2 separate regions of the Homo sapiens genome follow, and region 2 is linked to region 1. The links come from fine-mapping of genetic effects on gene expression. A gene starts in region 1. The other region holds a variant in brackets. All regions are shown on one strand. Distances are from middle to middle.

Evidence for each region.
Region 2: its variant is fine-mapped to the expression of AMOTL1 in whole blood (TOPMed, PIP above 0.99).

What each region holds. Positions count from the first base shown.
Region 1 is chr11:94,764,075-94,772,405 of GRCh38, reverse strand. It overlaps AMOTL1 (angiomotin like 1), which reads right to left and starts at 4,050. Exons shown (of 13, transcript NM_130847.3): 1 at 3,846-4,050. The coding sequence starts at 3,894.
Region 2 is chr11:94,642,578-94,650,908 of GRCh38, reverse strand. The region is part of intron 4 of PIWIL4-AS1 (PIWIL4 antisense RNA 1); the gene reads left to right. LINC02700 (long intergenic non-protein coding RNA 2700) reads right to left here. Exons shown (of 6, transcript NR_187352.1): 2 at 6,756-6,939; 3 at 3,331-3,574; 4 at 2,521-2,649; 5 at 372-435. Among named protein-coding and RNA genes, the nearest start is that of LINC02700, 8.7 kb to the right of the region's middle. RefSeq lists enhancers at 561-1,136, 3,556-4,289. The variant T/C (reference allele first, on the strand shown) is at 3,241.

The sequences.
Region 1 (8,331 bases):
TTGCTAAGCATTTAGCAACAGAGTGAGGATGGGGAGAAGAGGGCCAGTGCAACTATAGAGGTGTAGCATAAGGGAGATCATTGGGGTAATAAAATAGTCTGTACCTTGATTGTGGTAGCGGTTACATGAATCTACACATGAAAAAATGCATAGAAGTACACACATAGAAATACAAATTTTACATGTGCATGTAAAACTGGTGAAATCTGAATATGCTCTGTGGACTGTACCAATGTCAATTTCCTGGTTCTGCTACTGTACTATGGTTATGTAAGATGTTACCAATGGGGGAAACTGGGTGAAGGGTACACAGGACCTCTCTACTATTTTTGCAACTTCCTATGAAGCTATGATCATTTCAAAACGAAAAGTTAAAAGTAAACAGCAGACATTTTACTTAAAAACAAAATGAAAAAATAGAGGTATATAGCTGCAATATTGGCCAGTGAGGTCTCAAACACAGGTTTAAACACACACCATAGAACGACAGTTTTTGAAAACTTAAATCTAATTCTTCAGTATCTTAACAGGGATACATTTCCAACACCTTAGAGCTACTCTCCTACTCTCTCCTAAAAGATGGGGGGAAAATGCCTGATGTGTGAGCCCCTTTAGGAGTCCAGGAGTCCTGTCCTGAGTGTCCAAAATGAATATACCCTAAGGTTACACAAGGCCTGGCCGTGAGAGCAGAGCCAAGGGCCTCACAAGTTAAAGTAGAACTCAGCTTGATGCCAACACATAAACCAAGAGCAGGAGTGGCTTCCTTCCAGCAAAAGTAGAGGACTGCCCTACCCACAATGGCCAAGATTTACATTGTACCTCTCCTTCAAGACAAAACAAAGCCAAGCCAACAAAATTAACTTTAAAAAAATCACTAGGCAAACAAAAAAACAAAACAAAACATAAAACCACAACAACCTCAGACTATTTCCAACAAACCTTGTAATCAAATATCTCCCTTTACTTGACCTCCACACTACCCCTTGCTTTTCGAGGATTTTATTACCTACTAAATTCTGAGTCATAAGAACCTGCCAAAATTAATGAAAAATAGGAGAAAAATTATTCAAAACACTGCAGAATTTTCTGACCTGAGCTTCCTTATGCATTTAAAATGCAGATAGCCACACACCGCACCCCCCCCCCAACCCCGCCAAAAAGAAAAGAAAATAGAAAAGGTTACTTTGGGGGAATTTTATATATCAGAAATATTAGCAGGTCCTATAAAGTTACTTCTTTTTAATTTATTGGCCTGAAAAATCAAACTTTTACAATTTTCACTAGCAATTCCCATTTCATGTCATTAATTATTTTTTTCAAAAGTCTTTGTTTTATCATTTTCAAAGCATTTTCACAAATTACTATGAAGAAATGCAGCACTGATACCTAGAGGCTATACCTTTCAACAGAACTCTCACCAGCCAGACTGCTCATTTCAATTAGTTCAGCCATCTTTTCCCTAGGCCCTGGGTCCACACTTTTCCTTAGGGGTAGACATCAGAAAAGCTGAGCTCTACCCACAACAGCCTCTAGACTAACTGGCCCAGGGCAGACACTCTCAAGTCTGATCAGCGGAGTGCTTTCCCATAAAATCACTCACATTTCTGCATTCATGTGTTTTTCTTAACGACAGCACTTTAAAATCTCATTTAAACTGAAAATCCTCCATTAGCCTCCGTGAAAAGATGTATTTTTAAATGCTTTGATCTCCACATGCCCTTTGGAAAATTAGTATGCTACATCCTCCATCATCTGCAAAGAACCTGAAAGACCAAGACTTCTGTGCATTTTAAAAAGAAGGGGGAGGGAAAGGGGCGTTACAGGTACAGCACCTTCTCTCCTATCCACCTGCAGGTTTACAAAGGTTTCCTTATTTATCTTGAAAAATGCATCACAGAAAAACAAAAGTGCACTCCAAGAACTAAACATCCTCATCCCTCCCCCCAACCCCCACCACCATCATAAGGAAAAGTAGAGCCTGTATAAAGCCTTCTACCTATGTCCTACCCTTTTCATTCTGGTCGAATCGGTGTTTTCCTTCATTCTAGTCAAATCAGTGCTTTTCCACCCTTTACTAACAGTTCAAAGTATATTAAACTACTGTTCCCACATTATTCTCATAAAGAGCCTTCAAAGTAGATACACACTATAAGGCTCAGAGCACCTTACTAGGAAGTAAATGTCAGTTGCTCTAGATTCTTTAAGACCTTGCAATCTAGAGAGCTCCTTAATCGTTAACCTGGGTCTGACTTCCACAGCTGCCCGGGCCCAGGAGTGGTATGCAGCCAGGGGAAATCTTAGCCAGTTTGGCAGTGACCCATAGGCCAGTTTTGGAAGCAGGGAGCCATGATTGTTTAATATTTCAAGCCTTGACTTTTTGCTTCCCGAAAAGGAAGGAAATTTTCTGGAACTGTAGCTATTAATAGCCCTCTATTCTGGTTTAATTCGTTTATGGTGAGCAGGTTAGCACGTTACTGCTTTGGTTAGCCGAAAGCATCTTCGAGGTATCACAACTGGCTCTCGAGACCACGTACCCCACCACCACCAAGGCCTTCTATAAGCAGTACAAAAACTCAGTTCTCATAACATGCCTCAGGAGAAGAAAATGGGAAACCAAGGCCTCACAGAGAAAGGGAGCTGAGGGACCATGGGGACAAAATGTTGGGTCCAAACCGCATCGTCTCAGGAGGCCGCACGCTCAGGGCCCACCTCTGAAACCCCAGTCCAGGTGATCCACACGCTAGCCCGGCCAAAAGGTATTTGCCACGCGGAGACAGGAAACCAACACCGAAGCCAAAAAGGCAAAAATCTTCGAACAAAAATGGAAAAGGAAAGTCTTCCTAGTCATCAGTAAAGATAGGAAGAGTAGGGTGGGCGAGGCGCGGGAGCTTTGCGCAGATACCCGGGATTCTCGGCCTGGGGCTCTGAGGGGGGAAACTTGGACACGTCGCCGCGAGCGCAGTCCAGGTAGCGGAGGCCCTAGAGGTGCGCGCCAGGGCTCGTCTGCTCTGCCGCCGCGTCCTCCAGCCCGGCCGCCTATGGGGCACGCTCGGTCCCTGTCCCGGCACTAGGCCACCGTTCCGCTCGGCTGTCATCGGCCAACGTACCACTCTCCCTCCTGCCACAAATGTCACATTCCAAGAAAAAACAGTTCCATTTGGAAAGTTTAAATTTTCTCCCCGCGAAAGCAGATTATTGTAAAGGCAGCCCTAACAGGCAAGCGGGAGCTGGATGTAACTCTCCAGTTTGTCAAAGAAACTTGTCTGGGGAGAGAACAAAGAAGGAGCAGCAGCTAACGCGATCCGAGCGTCTGGGGCTGGGGTGCGACCCTTTCGTCGCCCCCACCCGCCAGAGCCGGGTCTGGCCGGCGGGCAGAAAGGGTCCAGTCCACAGCGCCAGAGCCCGTCGGGCGGGCCGGTGCGCGCGCCTTTGTCTCGCGCCGGGGAAAGCTGCACCGGACACCCCCTTCCGTCCCCTCCCTCGCCGCGAGACCCGCGCGCGGGCGCGGGCGCGCCTCGGAGTGTCTGGCCATATGGCTGCGCCCCTCAGGAAAGGCCAGCCCCGCGTCGGGCGCGCAGCACCCCGGGGCCCAAACCCCGGGGCCACAACTTCAGTCAACGTGGGTCGCGGGGCGGCAAGACGCTGAGGCCCGGCCCGCAGGCAACTGGACCTGGAGCGGGGCAAGGGAACCCGCTTAAAAACAACAATCTGGGATCTCAGCCCCGGGCCCCCAGAAGCTGCCCCCTTCCGTGAGCAGCAGGGGCCCGGGGAGCCCGGGGCGACTGGGTTCTTCGCGTGGGAGACTCGGAGACGCCCTCCCGGCACCTCGAGTGGGGGCTGGTTACCTTTCACCGCAGGCTCACAAGTTCCCCGGCGCAACTTTGCCCTCCACATGAGGCGATCATGGCTAGTTCAGTCCCTCGGCTGGGGAAGACGGCTGCCGGGCAGCGCGGGGAAGTGGCGCCGGACAATCAACCCCATTCACACAGGGCTTCACCTCCAGCCCCAAACCCGACAACCGCTGCTGGGTCCTAGAGCTTCTCGCGCGCTCCCGCCGCCGTCCGCGCTCCCCGCTCCCCGCGCGCGGGCCGGGGAGGGTCGCCCGGGCTCGTCACTAGAACCCTACACTCCACCCCCGCCGTGGCGCCCGGCCGCTGGGCCCTAGAGCCCGTCTGCAGACACCCGCCGCCCCTCCCCGGGCCGCGAGACTGCCAGGCTGAAATTGCCCAGAGCTCAAGCTGACGTGTCTCCCTGAGACTTAGGAGGGCGACAGCATCCCTTCCTTTGTCCCCTGCCGGGTTTTGATTAATTTCAGACTCACCAGTTCTCCCTCCACTTTGTCTTCCTTCCCCACCAGCCCAATGCCGGCCAAAATTCTGTTTCCGGATCTGCCCAAAAGTCTAGATTTGCTTAGGTTGGTTTTTTTTCTTCTTAAGTGGAATTTCCAGGTAGAAAGTGGCCACACTTTTCTCAGCATTCCCCAGGCCCCAGTGCTTCCATCACGCACTTGAGATTGGGCGATAAGCTGCTACTATGTGCTCCGTTGACAAACAGAAGGGCCAAAACAGACCTGACAGCCTCGGATATTAAATGTGTTCGCAGAACCGTACATCCTCTGGCCATAAATCCCCAGGCTGTTATCTGCCTGAGTAGAGGTAAAGAAAGTAAGCGACTCTGGGAAAATGTTGCCCCACCTCTTAAAATCAGGCTGTGCTGAGAACTACTCATCCACCTCATTATATTGGTTTATACTGGCGGCTCTCTGGAGCCCTAATCTGGGGTGCCCGAGCCTGCCCCATAGCACTTCTGCCTGGCTTTTTCCGGGCAGCTCTACTGCTTGGAGAAGAGAAAGCTAGGTAACTGTACAGTTGCTGCCCAGGATGTTAGTGGGAGAGTTAGCGCACACCAAGCCTCTCTTATCTGGTGCTCCCTGCCTCTGTTTACCTGCTATCTAGGTCCGGCCTTCAGGGACTCCTCCCTGGATTGTGGCAGTTCCCTAACTAGACTGCCAGCAGTTTTACCTCTCATCAGTTCTGGTGGGTTGCATGTCCTGATTCTGATTCCCCTGATGGGCCCTCCTACTGAGTAAACTCTGCTCTCAAGATAAAGCCCAAATGTAATCATTTAACAATTATTTATGAAATGCCTACTCCATTTAAAGTCATCTACCCTGGTACACACAAAAGAAACTTAGCACACAAAAGAAACTTAGAGCAGCTGACCAGCCCTTCAAGGATCTGTTATCTGTCTAAGAAGACAAGATGTGTGAACAGAAAACAGGCAAGCAACAAAGCAGGAGATCCAAGTACTGCAGATGCCTGGGAAGGGCGGAGAGAGGCACTGACTACACAGAAGGAAAAGCCTGGGAGGGTGGTGGAGTTCAGACACAGCAGAAAGAGGAAAAGGCAGCACTGGGCAAGCAGAGGCAAAAGCCAAGAGGGAGATGACAAGGTCTGGGTGCTTGGGAAGAAGGCATAGAGGAAAGCGTTTTTACCAGAAACGAGGAGAAAACAAGGGAAGGCAGAATAACAACGTCACAAAAATGTAGGCCTGGAAAGAATCTAAGAAAGTGTCAACTAAACCTTTCACTTGCCGGATGAAGAAGCTCAGGCATAGCTGTTGAATGACTTGTCCAATGTTACAGAACAAGTTTAGTAGCAAAGCCAGGTATAGAAACAACCTCTGCCTCAATGTGCCTTGTATTACACATTGTGAACCCTGAATCGCAAATTAGGAGCTGAAGTGGTTATCTTATGGACAGTGAAGGGACCACTGATTCACCTAACATTTGCGCGAATTTAATACAAATTGGGGAAGAAGTGATGGATAGAAAAAGAAGAAAGGAAACTAATCTTTACTAATTGCCCACTCCTAGATACCATCCTATAGTCTAGGAAGCAGCAAAATTTCCAAGTTACAACCATCAAGTTTAGAACAAAACAGGCATGAGCTGAGTTGCAGCTCCACCATTCAGTATCTGTGTGACGCTGAGCAAGTTGCCTAACTTCTCTAAACCTCAGTATCCTTTTTGGCAAGATGAAGAAAATAGCATCTCACAGAGTGGTTGTGAAGACTGAATAAAATAACAAATGTAAAATACTCAGCACAATGCATGTAGTATTCAATATACATTTGCTATTATTATTTCAAGAGACTATCTAGGATAGTTGCAGGAAGCAATGATAGGTGAGGTTGACAGAGGTGATAAAAAGGAAATGAGAGATACCATATCTTTGGAGATACCAGATGTCATAAAGAAAGGTATCAAATCTTTGAAGCAAGATTTTATTCTTCTCATTGACTCGTTGTTTATCCTGGGGAAAAGGACAAAGTAATCAAGTTAACCTAGGCTTTGAGCCCAGTCATAGGAAGAATAGATCTTGCAGTCTTAGAAGAATGGATCATTAGACCAATGACAGATGAAGCACAGTTGAGAAGAGGAAACGGTTTGAGAAAGATGCTGAGTGACTTACTATCCTCTGGGCAAGAGGAAACAAGGAACAAGGGACTGGGTGAGAAGTGGAGGACAGAGGTGTAGAGAAAAGGAGAGATGAAGCTTTGAAGATCAGTTCATTAACAGAATGTCCACAACTGGAAAACAGGGAAAGAAGGAGGGAGAAGAGGAAGAATCTGGAGAAGTAGAAGAGCTGGGAAAAGGTAAAGGCATGGAAGCCAGAGGAAGTTTTAAGAAGTGGGTCCTTCTATCAAATGCTACAGATTCTTAGACCTGCAATGAAGTGCTAGGCACAGCTTGTGGGTTCAAGGATCTTCTGATTCAATCAGGTGGACCTAGCCTAGACTCCTCAAATTAATACCCAGTAATCAGATACATGGAAGCACAGGCAGAAAACACTGCTGGAGACCAATGTTTCCCTCCTGTGCCTTAATTTCCTTATCTGTGAATAAGCTCTACATCAAATGCAGAAAACAATCTTTTCAGGCCTTAACTTAGTTCCTGAATCTATTGTTCAGGAACTAAGGCCTGCAAAAAAAGACTCTGAATTTCACTAGCAAGAAGTTATCAATAACATCTTTCAGTAAGCACACTTGGCTGGAGATTCTGATGTCTGGTTTGTGTCTAATGGAAACAAAGTATGTTTACAATAAAAATTGAACACACCTTCACTAACAGCAAGGTAGTGAACCAGTCCACATCTGTGCCTTCTTTAGATCTATGCACTCATCCTAAAGGTCAGCATCCTTTCTAAAGTGACCCAAGTTGTCATTTACTCATTCCTAAGAAAGCTAAGAAGATGATGGGCCAATTTTAGTGCTCTTTGGGGCAGCCCAGAGAGCAGTCTTTCACTCAAAACAGGACGAGTACCAGGATGTTCCAGTGATACCAAGCTGTTCCCAACAAGCATAGAGGCGGGAAGAATGTTGAAGTAACAGAGGCATCTGGATAGAGGAGAATGAGCAGGGCCTTTACAGTAAGACCTGCTTCTAGTCCATGTTCTATCTATTTCTAGACACGGAGAGCCTCAGCTTCCTCCTCTATAAAATAATAACATTTGCCTCATAAACTTATTGCAAGGGTTAAATGAGATAATACAGGTCAAGTGCTGGGCACATCTAGGAATTCAGTAAAAGTTAGAAACCCTCCTCTTCTCCAGTAATTTGAAATACCAAGGAATTTAAATACTCTATTAAAATGCAAATGTCTTTCTCCTCTCACTTTTCTCAGCACCCCTTCTTGACAAACATTTAAAGTCTTTACCAGCTAATACTTTCACTGAATGGGCCCTAAGAATGGGCTTGGGCTTGCAAAGACAGAGAAGCCAAACAGCAAAAGAAGAGTGGATGAACATGACTACGTAAGGAACAGCTACTACACACAGCCTCACCTGGGACCATCGCTACAACTGGTAGTTCTCCATTAATGACTGTTGAATGAACAAACCAATGATTTGATGCACCCAGGCTGCTTTGATCAAAATGCTTGTTTTGCTCCTAGAACAAGTAAGGATATTTTTTAAGTTCAATTTCAAGCACTTTCTGAAGTGTAACTTATGAAACCAAAGCATGTAAAAATTTAAACTCCTCATGTTCCACCTCCAAATTTCTGAATCTCTAAAGGTGCAGTCCTAGAATCCACTCGAAATGACTCCTAGCACATTGAGGTTTCCAGCTGGCTCACTGGGGTTAGTCAGTGCTCCTGCAATTCACTTTCAGAAGTATTTACTACATCAGAGTGTAGTATGCTAAAGATAAAAAATGATGGTGAACACACTAGAGATTAGACACAAAGCATTATGGGAGCATAGAGGAATGATGCACAGGAAAAAAACGGGCAAGTTCCAAGAAATCCAGGTGCTGAGAGGAGGATATTTC
Region 2 (8,331 bases), 120 kb after region 1:
CTTCAGAAGGCACCCGAGAGTGGCCCCGGCCAGCTGTCCTCAATTAACCGGGAGCTACTAGGAGTAGCTGAAAGACCGAAACAGGAAAAAGAAAAATAACTCAGTAAAAGGGAGAAAGGAATAGGACTCAGAAAAACAAAACCAAGGAAAAGGACTCAGGTTGCCCACCCAGCCGGGTGGTGGTGGTCAGATGCGTCACATGGAAACCTGTAGGTTTCACCAGAGAGTGGCCCTGGCTGGAAACTTGCAGTTGTCTCTATGTTTAGGCGCTGATCACGGAGGGTCCCAAGTTGGAAAGGAAAAAGAGAGAGAAAAAGGTTTCCCTGTATGTAAAAGGGGAAAGAAAAATAAATCCCAAACTTTGGGCCTACCTTGTCTCCAGGCTGGCTCGCCAAAATATATGTTACCAGTAGAAGGTGTTCAGGTTCTTGGCATCTCAAATGAAGAAGTTGACAAAATGCACAAATGAGGCAAGGAAAGCAAAAGCAGGGATTTATTGAGAATAAAAGTACACGCCACAGTGTGGGAACAGCCCAATCATAGAGGCTCAAGAGCCCGGCTTACAGAATTTTCTGGGGTTTTAATGCTCTAGAGGTTTCCCGTTGGTCACTTGGTGAATATTCTATGTAAATGAAGTGAATAAAGTGAAGTCACAGAGTCATTTACTCAGAATGTGCCCTACTGTAAATGGAGAGGATGTTAGTTGGTGTGTGATCTATGTAAATGGAGAGGATGAAAGTGAAGTTACAAAGTGGAAATGGTATGAATGGAGAGGATGAAGGGAATTTACAAAACCATTCACATTCCTGTCATTGCTAAGGTGCTTTCATTTGATTTAGTAAAGTCAGTGTGGATTGGCTTTATGTTCCCTGCCTCCAGGCCCTAGTCTCCTGCCTCAGTAGAGCCCTCAAATCTCTCAGGGTGGGTCTACTCAGGCTAAGTTTGTCTGAAAACTATTTCTCAAGCTGATTTTTTGGTTGTTTTTGAAAACTCATTGAGTTATTTATTTTATTTATTTATATATTTATTTTTTGAGACACAGTCTTGCTCTGTCACCCAGGCTGGAGTGCAGTGGCACAATCTCGGCTCATTGCAACCTCCACCTCCTGGGTTTAAGCAATTCTCCTGCCTCAGCCTCCCGAGTAGCTGGAATTACAGATCCCCACCACCATGCCTGGCTAATTTTTGTATTTTTAGTAGAGACAGGGTTTTACCATGTTGGCCAGGCTGGTCTCGAACTTCTGATCTCAGGTGATCCACCTGCCTTGGCCTCCAAAAGTGCTGGGATTACAGGCATGAGCCACCATGCCTGGCCGAGTTATTTATTTTAGAATAGGATAAATGACTCCTGCTTTGCAGATAAATATCAGAGCAGTAATCGCACACAGCCTGAAGCTGCCATATTTTATTCTGACCTACTTCATAATGACTCTTAATTGCTCTGAAAAAAATATTCTTCCTTATTTATTCTGAACTGGCTTTTAGGGGTTGCATTTGGACAGGGGAAGAGTAGATCTTATCATTCAGGCCCTGCCAGACAGCAATTCCTGTTTCTGAGAGCACTTACCTTCTCCAGTCTGGCTTGCAACTCAGCCAAGCTAGATCTAAGGAGCTTCCTTTCCTAGATGAGCTTCCTTCTCCTAGGTCTTTGCTTTTATGTCTCACCCACTAGTCTCTATGTTTGTATCTTAATGCCTCTTTAAGTATCTCACATCACCTTACAAAACGATTAGTGCATTATAGATTCAACAAATACTTAACTTTTCTGAAAATCCAGTTACTTGTTTTATGAGCCTCCAATTGCAAACTGAAATTATCTTCTCCATTATTGCTAATGACAGTGAAGAATTTTCCATTCAGCATCAAAGAGTCAAAAAATACCTAAAAACATTTTTCCTTGCATATAGCATATTGACAACATTGTCTCTCACACCTGTTGAATGTTCTTCCTCTGTGCCTAGTACTATGCTACCCTTGAATGCGTGTCTTACTTTTTATAATAACCTGTGAGATAGAGGTTTTTTAAATTGTCATTTGTGACACAGAAAAAGCAATTTAAGATACTCATCTACATGCAGCTAGTAAATGAGAGAAGCAGGATCTGAACCCAGCTCAGATTCCAAAGCCTAAGTATTTTCTACTACACCACTCTCCAACAGACAGGAGCTAAAGGCCACTTAATTCCTTTCTTTCCAGTCTGTCACTCTCAATAGTGCCTTGGCTCTGCTTACTTGGAAGCTCTTTCTCCCCTAGAATTTTGAGGAGAAAATGTAAGGACAATTGTTTTTTAATTCTAAATAATTCTCTTGTCACTGTCACAGCAGCAGTCTTGGTGTTCAGAAGCTGTGGTAAGACCAGTGGACTTAACATCAAGACAGGAGTTTGAGCATCTTATGTAACATGACATTGACCCTTTTGTATAGTCTAAAAAGTTATTTATTTTTTCTTTCTGGGGAAAAGTTTGATGTCTTCCTCAAAGAGTCTGACCATCTAGGTGAGCATCAAGGTGAAATATTTTACCTGCTTTCCTGATGTATGAATCCATAACAATGGGATATTTGAAGAATTTTTATGAGATTATGTTGAGGCTTGGCTGATCTTCCTTTGTGTTCCAGCTACTGTGTGGAAGGGCCCGGTTTTGTCTTTGTTCTGCAAGAAGGAAAGCAAACACAAGAAGCCTAGCCTGGGAGATAGAAACACCCATGGGAGGATGGAAATCTGTGACCCCTCCTCCCTCACCAACACCACATCCAATCAGCCACGAGGCCCCCCTGCTTCCCCAAATCCCCATTGCCATTACATTCACCATTATCCTTTGCTGGGAATGTTGCAACAGCTCCTGATTTATTGCCCACTTTCCACCCTTATCTTCGTCAGCCTCCAGCATCATTCCTAAACAGCAGCCAGTGTGATATTTAAAAAATAACAAATCTAAATATAAGACTCTTCTGGTTAAAAACCTTCAAGGCTTCCCATTACTCTTCAAATCGTGGCAAACATTTTTAAGCAGAGCTTTAAGGCAGTTCGTAGTCTGGTCCCTGCCTGCCTCCCTAGCCTCATCTTGCTCCATTTCTCCTTTTTTCCACCCTACCCTACAATCACGTTAACAGATTTTTCTCTTCCACAAACGTGCCAAGCTATTCCCTGCATCTGGAATGCTCTCCCTGCTGCCACTCTCCTGGATAACAACTTTTGTCTTTCAGATCTTAGCTTACATGGATGTGACTGCCTCATAGAGAC[T/C]TTCTCAACTCTCCAAACTTGGTTAGAGATCCCTCTACTAAACCATTGTAGAAACCTGTGTCTCTTCTTCATAATCTCATTTTAACTCACGTTGTTATTTCTGTGGTTGTCTATTTGATGGTTCAGGGCCACGCCTGGCCTGTTCACTCCCATGTCCCCAGGAGCCAGCACCGCATCTGGCACCTAGAAGGTGCTCAGCAAGTCTTTGGAAGAGGAATGAATGAGCCAGGACTTGCGTGAGGAAGGACCTGGCTTCCAGCTGTGGTTCTGCCACTTACTAAGCTGTGTAATCTTAGGAAGGTCGTTTAACTTCTCTGGACCTCAGTTTCTTCATCTGTAAAACAGGAATGATGATTTTCATGTGCGTCCATGTAAAGAGACCACCAAACAGGCTTTGTGTGAGCAATAAAGCTTTTAATCACCTGGGTGCACGCGGGCTGAGTCCGAAAAGAGAGTCAGCAAAGGCAGATAGGGGTGGGGCCGTTTTATAAGATTTGGGTAGGTAAAGGAAAATTACAGTCAAAGGGGGTTGTTCTCTGGCGGGCAGGAGTGGGGGTCACAAGGTACTCAGTGGGGGAGTTTTTGAGCCAGGATGAGCCAGGAGAAGGAATTTCACAAGACAATGTCATCAGTTAAGGCAGGAACAGGCCATTTTCACTTCTTTTGTGGTGGAATGTCATCAGTTAAGGCAGGAACTGGCCATCTGGATGTGTACATGCAAGTCACAGGGGACATGATGGCTCAGCTTGGGCTCAGAGGCCTGACATTCCTGTCTTCTTATATTAATAAGAAAAATAAAGCGAAATAGTGGTAAAGTGTTGGGATGGCGAAAATTTTTGGGGATGGTATGGAGAGATAATGGGCGATGTTTCTCAGGGCTGCTTTGAGCGGGATTAGGGGCAGCTTGGGAACCTAGAGTGGAAGAGATTAAGGTGAAGGAAGATTCTGTGGTAAGGGGTGATATTGTGGGGTTGTTAGAAGAAACATTTGTCATTTAGAATTATTAGTGATGGCCTGGATACAGTTTTGTATAAATTAAAAACTAAACGGAATAAGAGAAGAAGAAAAACAGGTATTAAAGGACTAAGAATTGGGAGGACCCAGGACATCTAATTAGAGAGTGCCTAAGGAGGTTCAGCATAGCCTTGCCAGTAAAGATTATTTATTCACTTTAAGAGTTAAGAGTGGTGGTTTGGGGATAGCACCAGGAGATATCAGCTGTGATGGCTTGGAGAAACAGTGTAAACTGGCAGTGTAAACAAGAGCAGGGCATGTATGAGTAGTTGAGAATGGTGAATAGGAGTATGACTAGACAGAAGATAGTAGGGATGACAAGTTTTTTGGGGGCACAGTCTAAGTTGGTCTGGTGTCTGGAATGAGACTGGGGCCTAATAAAAAGGAGCATCTATACAGGAGCTCAAATGGGCTGTACCCTGTAGCATTCTGAGGACAGGTCTGACCTCTGAGAAGGGAAAGTGGTACAAGTATTGTCCAGTCCTTTTTAAGTTGGTGGCTGAGCTTGGTGAGGTGTGTTTTTAAGAGACCTTTAGTCTGTTCTACTTTTCCTGAAGACGGAGGACTGTAAGGGATATAAAGGTTTCACTGAATACTAAGAGCCTGAAAAACTGCTTGGCTGATTTGAGTAATAAAGGCTGGTCTGTTATCAGACTGTATAGGGGTGGGAAGGCTAAACTGAGGAATTATGTCTGATAGAAGGGAAGAAATGACTGTGCTGGCCTTCTCAGACCCTGTAGGAAAGGCCTCTACCTATCCAGTGAAACTGTCTACCTAGACTAAGAGGTATTTTAGTTATCTGACTCAGGGCATGTTGAGTAAAGCTAATTTGCCAGTCGTGGGTGGGGGCAAATCCTCGAGCTTGATGTGTAGGGAAGGGAGGGGGCCTGAATAATCCCTGAGGAGTAGTAGAACAGCAGATGGAACACTGAGAAGTTATTTCCTTGAGGACAGATTTCCACGATGGAAAGGAAATGAGAGGTTCTAAGAGGCGGGCTAGTGGCTTGTACTATAGCATAGCCTGCCTTTGCTGGTGTGTGGTGATTATGCCTGGTGGAACCGCCATCAATAAATCAAGCGTGATCAGGATGAGGAACAGGAAAGAAGGAAATATGAGGAAATGGGGTGAATGTTAGGTGGATCAAAGAGATACAGTCATGTGGGTCAGGTGTGGTATCAGGAATAATGTGGGAGGCCGGATTGAAGTCTGGGCCAGGAACAATGGTAATTTTGGGACTTAACAAAGAGTGAGTACAGCTGAAGGATCCAGGGAGCAGAAAGTATATGCGTCAGGTATGAGGAAGAAAATAGATTTTGGAAGTTATAAGAAATGTAGAGAATAAGTTGAGCATAGTTTGTGATTTTGAGGGCCTCTAAAAGTATTAGGGCAGCAGCAGCCGCTGCACGGAGACATGAGGGCTAGGCTAAAACAGTAAGGTCAAGTTGTTTGCACAGAAAGGCTACAGGGTGCGGTCCTGGCTCTTGTGTAAGAATTCTGACCACACTAACCATGCCTAGGAAGGAAAGGAGTTGTTGTTTTGTAAGGGATTGAGGTTTGGGAGATTAATCGGACACGATCAGCAGGGAGAGCACGTGTGTTTTTATGAGAATTATGCCGAGATAGGTAACAGATGAGGATGAAATTTGGGCTTGACTGAAGTAATGGGGGCTGTCTGTGAAGCCTTGCGGCAGTACAGCCCACGTAATTTGCTGAGCCTAATGGGTGTCAGGGTCAGTCCAAGTGAAAGCGAAGAGAGGATGGGATGACGGGTGCAAAGGAATAGTAAATAAAGCATGTTTGAGATCCAGAACAGAATAATGGATTGTGGAGGGAGGTATTGAGGATAGGAGAGTATATGGGTTTGGCACCATGGGGTGGATAGGCAAAACAATTTGGTTGATAAGGCACAGATCCTGAACTAACTTGTCAGGTTTGTCTGGTTTTAGGACAGGTAAAATGGGGGAATTGTAAGGAGAGTTTATAGGCTTTAAAAGGCCATGCTATAGCAGGCGAGTGATAGCAGGCTTTAATCCTTTCAAAGCATGCTATGGGATGGGATATTGGCATTGAGCGGGGTAAGGGTGATTAGGTTTTACTGAGATGGTAAGGGGTGCATGATCGGTCGCCAAGGAGGGAGTAGAGGTATCTTATACTTGTGGGTTAAGGTGGGGGAATACAAGAAGAGGACGCAAAGGAGGCTTTGGATTGGGAAGAAGGGTGGCAATGAGATGTAGCTGTAATCCAGGAATAGTCAGGGAAGCAGATAATTTAGTTAAAGTGTCTCGGCCTAATAAGGGAACTGGGCAGGTGGGGATAACTAAAAAGGAGTGCTTAAAAGAGTATTGTCTAAGTTAGCACCAGAGTTGGGGAGTTTTAAGAGGTTTAGAAGCTTGGCTGTCAATACCCACAACAGTTATGGAGGCAACGGAAACAGGCCCTTGAAAAGAAGGTAATGTGGAGTGGGTAGCCTCCGTATTGATTAAGAAGGGGACGGACTTACCCTCCACTGTGAGAGTTACCTAAAGCTCGGCGTCCGTGATGGTCTACGGGGCTTCCGAGGCGATCGGGCAGTGTCAGTCTTTAGCCGCTAAGCCGAGAAGGAGTCAGAGAGCCTTGGGCCAGAGTTCCACGGGCTCTGTGAGTGGCTGCCAGGTGAGTTGAACAGTCCGATTTCCAGTGGGGTCCTGCACAGATGGGACACGGCTTAGGAGGAATCCTGGGCTGCAGGCATTCCTTGGCTTGGTGGTCAGATTTCTGGCACTTGTAGCGAGCTCCTGGGGAGGAGGTTCTGGAGGAACGCCTGGCCGCTGCGGTTCAGGCGTTTGGAAGTTCTTGTGTGCTGGAGATGTGGCTGGGGTTTGTCTCACAGTGGAGACAAGGAATTGCAACTTTTTTCTATTGTTGTACACCTTGAAGGCGAGGTTAATTAAATCCTGGTGTGGGGTTTGAGGGCCAGAATTTAATTTTTGGAGTTTTATTTAATGTCGGGAGCAGATTGGGTAATAAAATGTATATTGAGAATAGGACGGCCTTTTGACCTTTTAGGGTGTAGGGCTGTAAAGCGTCTCAGGGTTGCTGCCGAACGAGCCATGAACTGGGCTGGGTTTTTTATATTTGATGAAAAAGAGCCTAAATGTTATCTGATTTGGGATAAAGAAAAAGGAGCATTAAACCTTGACTATGCCTTTAGCTCTAGTCACCTTTTTAAGAGCAAATTGCTGGGCAGGTAGGGGAGGGCTAGTCACGGAATGAAACTAAGCCAGACCAACTAAGCCAGAGCGGGTGTGAGGAGGGGAGGTGATAAAAGGATTATAGGGTGGAGGAGCGGAGGCTGAGGAAGAATTGGGATCTAGCTCGGCCTGGCGAGGAGCAGCCTGGGGAGGAGGGGAGAGGTCAGATGGGTCTGTAGAAAAGGAAGATTAGAAAGACTCAGTGACGCTTGGGGTTGGGACTGAGGGGACAGGTGGGAGGGAAAGAAGGAAGATTTGGGATGAGTTGCATTGGGAACAGAGACTAGAGAGGGACCGACGTGTAAAAGAATGCCTGGATGTCAGGCACCTCAGACCATTTGCCCATTTTATGACAAGAATTATTTAGATCTTGTAGGATGGAAAAATTGAAAGTGCCATTTTCTGGCTATTTGGAACTACTGTCGAGTTTGTATTGGGGTCAAGCGGCATTGCAGAAGAAAATAAGATGCTTAGATTTTAGGTCAGGTGAGAGTTGAAGAGGTTTTAAGTTCTTAAGAACACAGGCTAAGGGAGAAGAAGGAGGAATGGAAGGTGGAAGCTTGCCCATAGTAAAGGAGGCAAGCCCAGAGAAAACAGTAGAGACACGGAGAAGGGGTGGGGAGTTCTTGCCCTCCAGAAAAGCAGAGAAGGGGTTGGGGCACAAAGGTGCAGAGATATAAGAGGTTGGGGCGCGGAAATAAGGGATTGGGGTGCAGAGATATAAGAGGTTGGGGCATGGAAATAAGGGATCGGGGCACAGAGATATAAGGGGTTGGGGTGGGGAAATAAGGGATGGGGCGCAGAGATATAAGGGGTTGGGGTATTTGCCTCTCCCCTAGAAAAGCG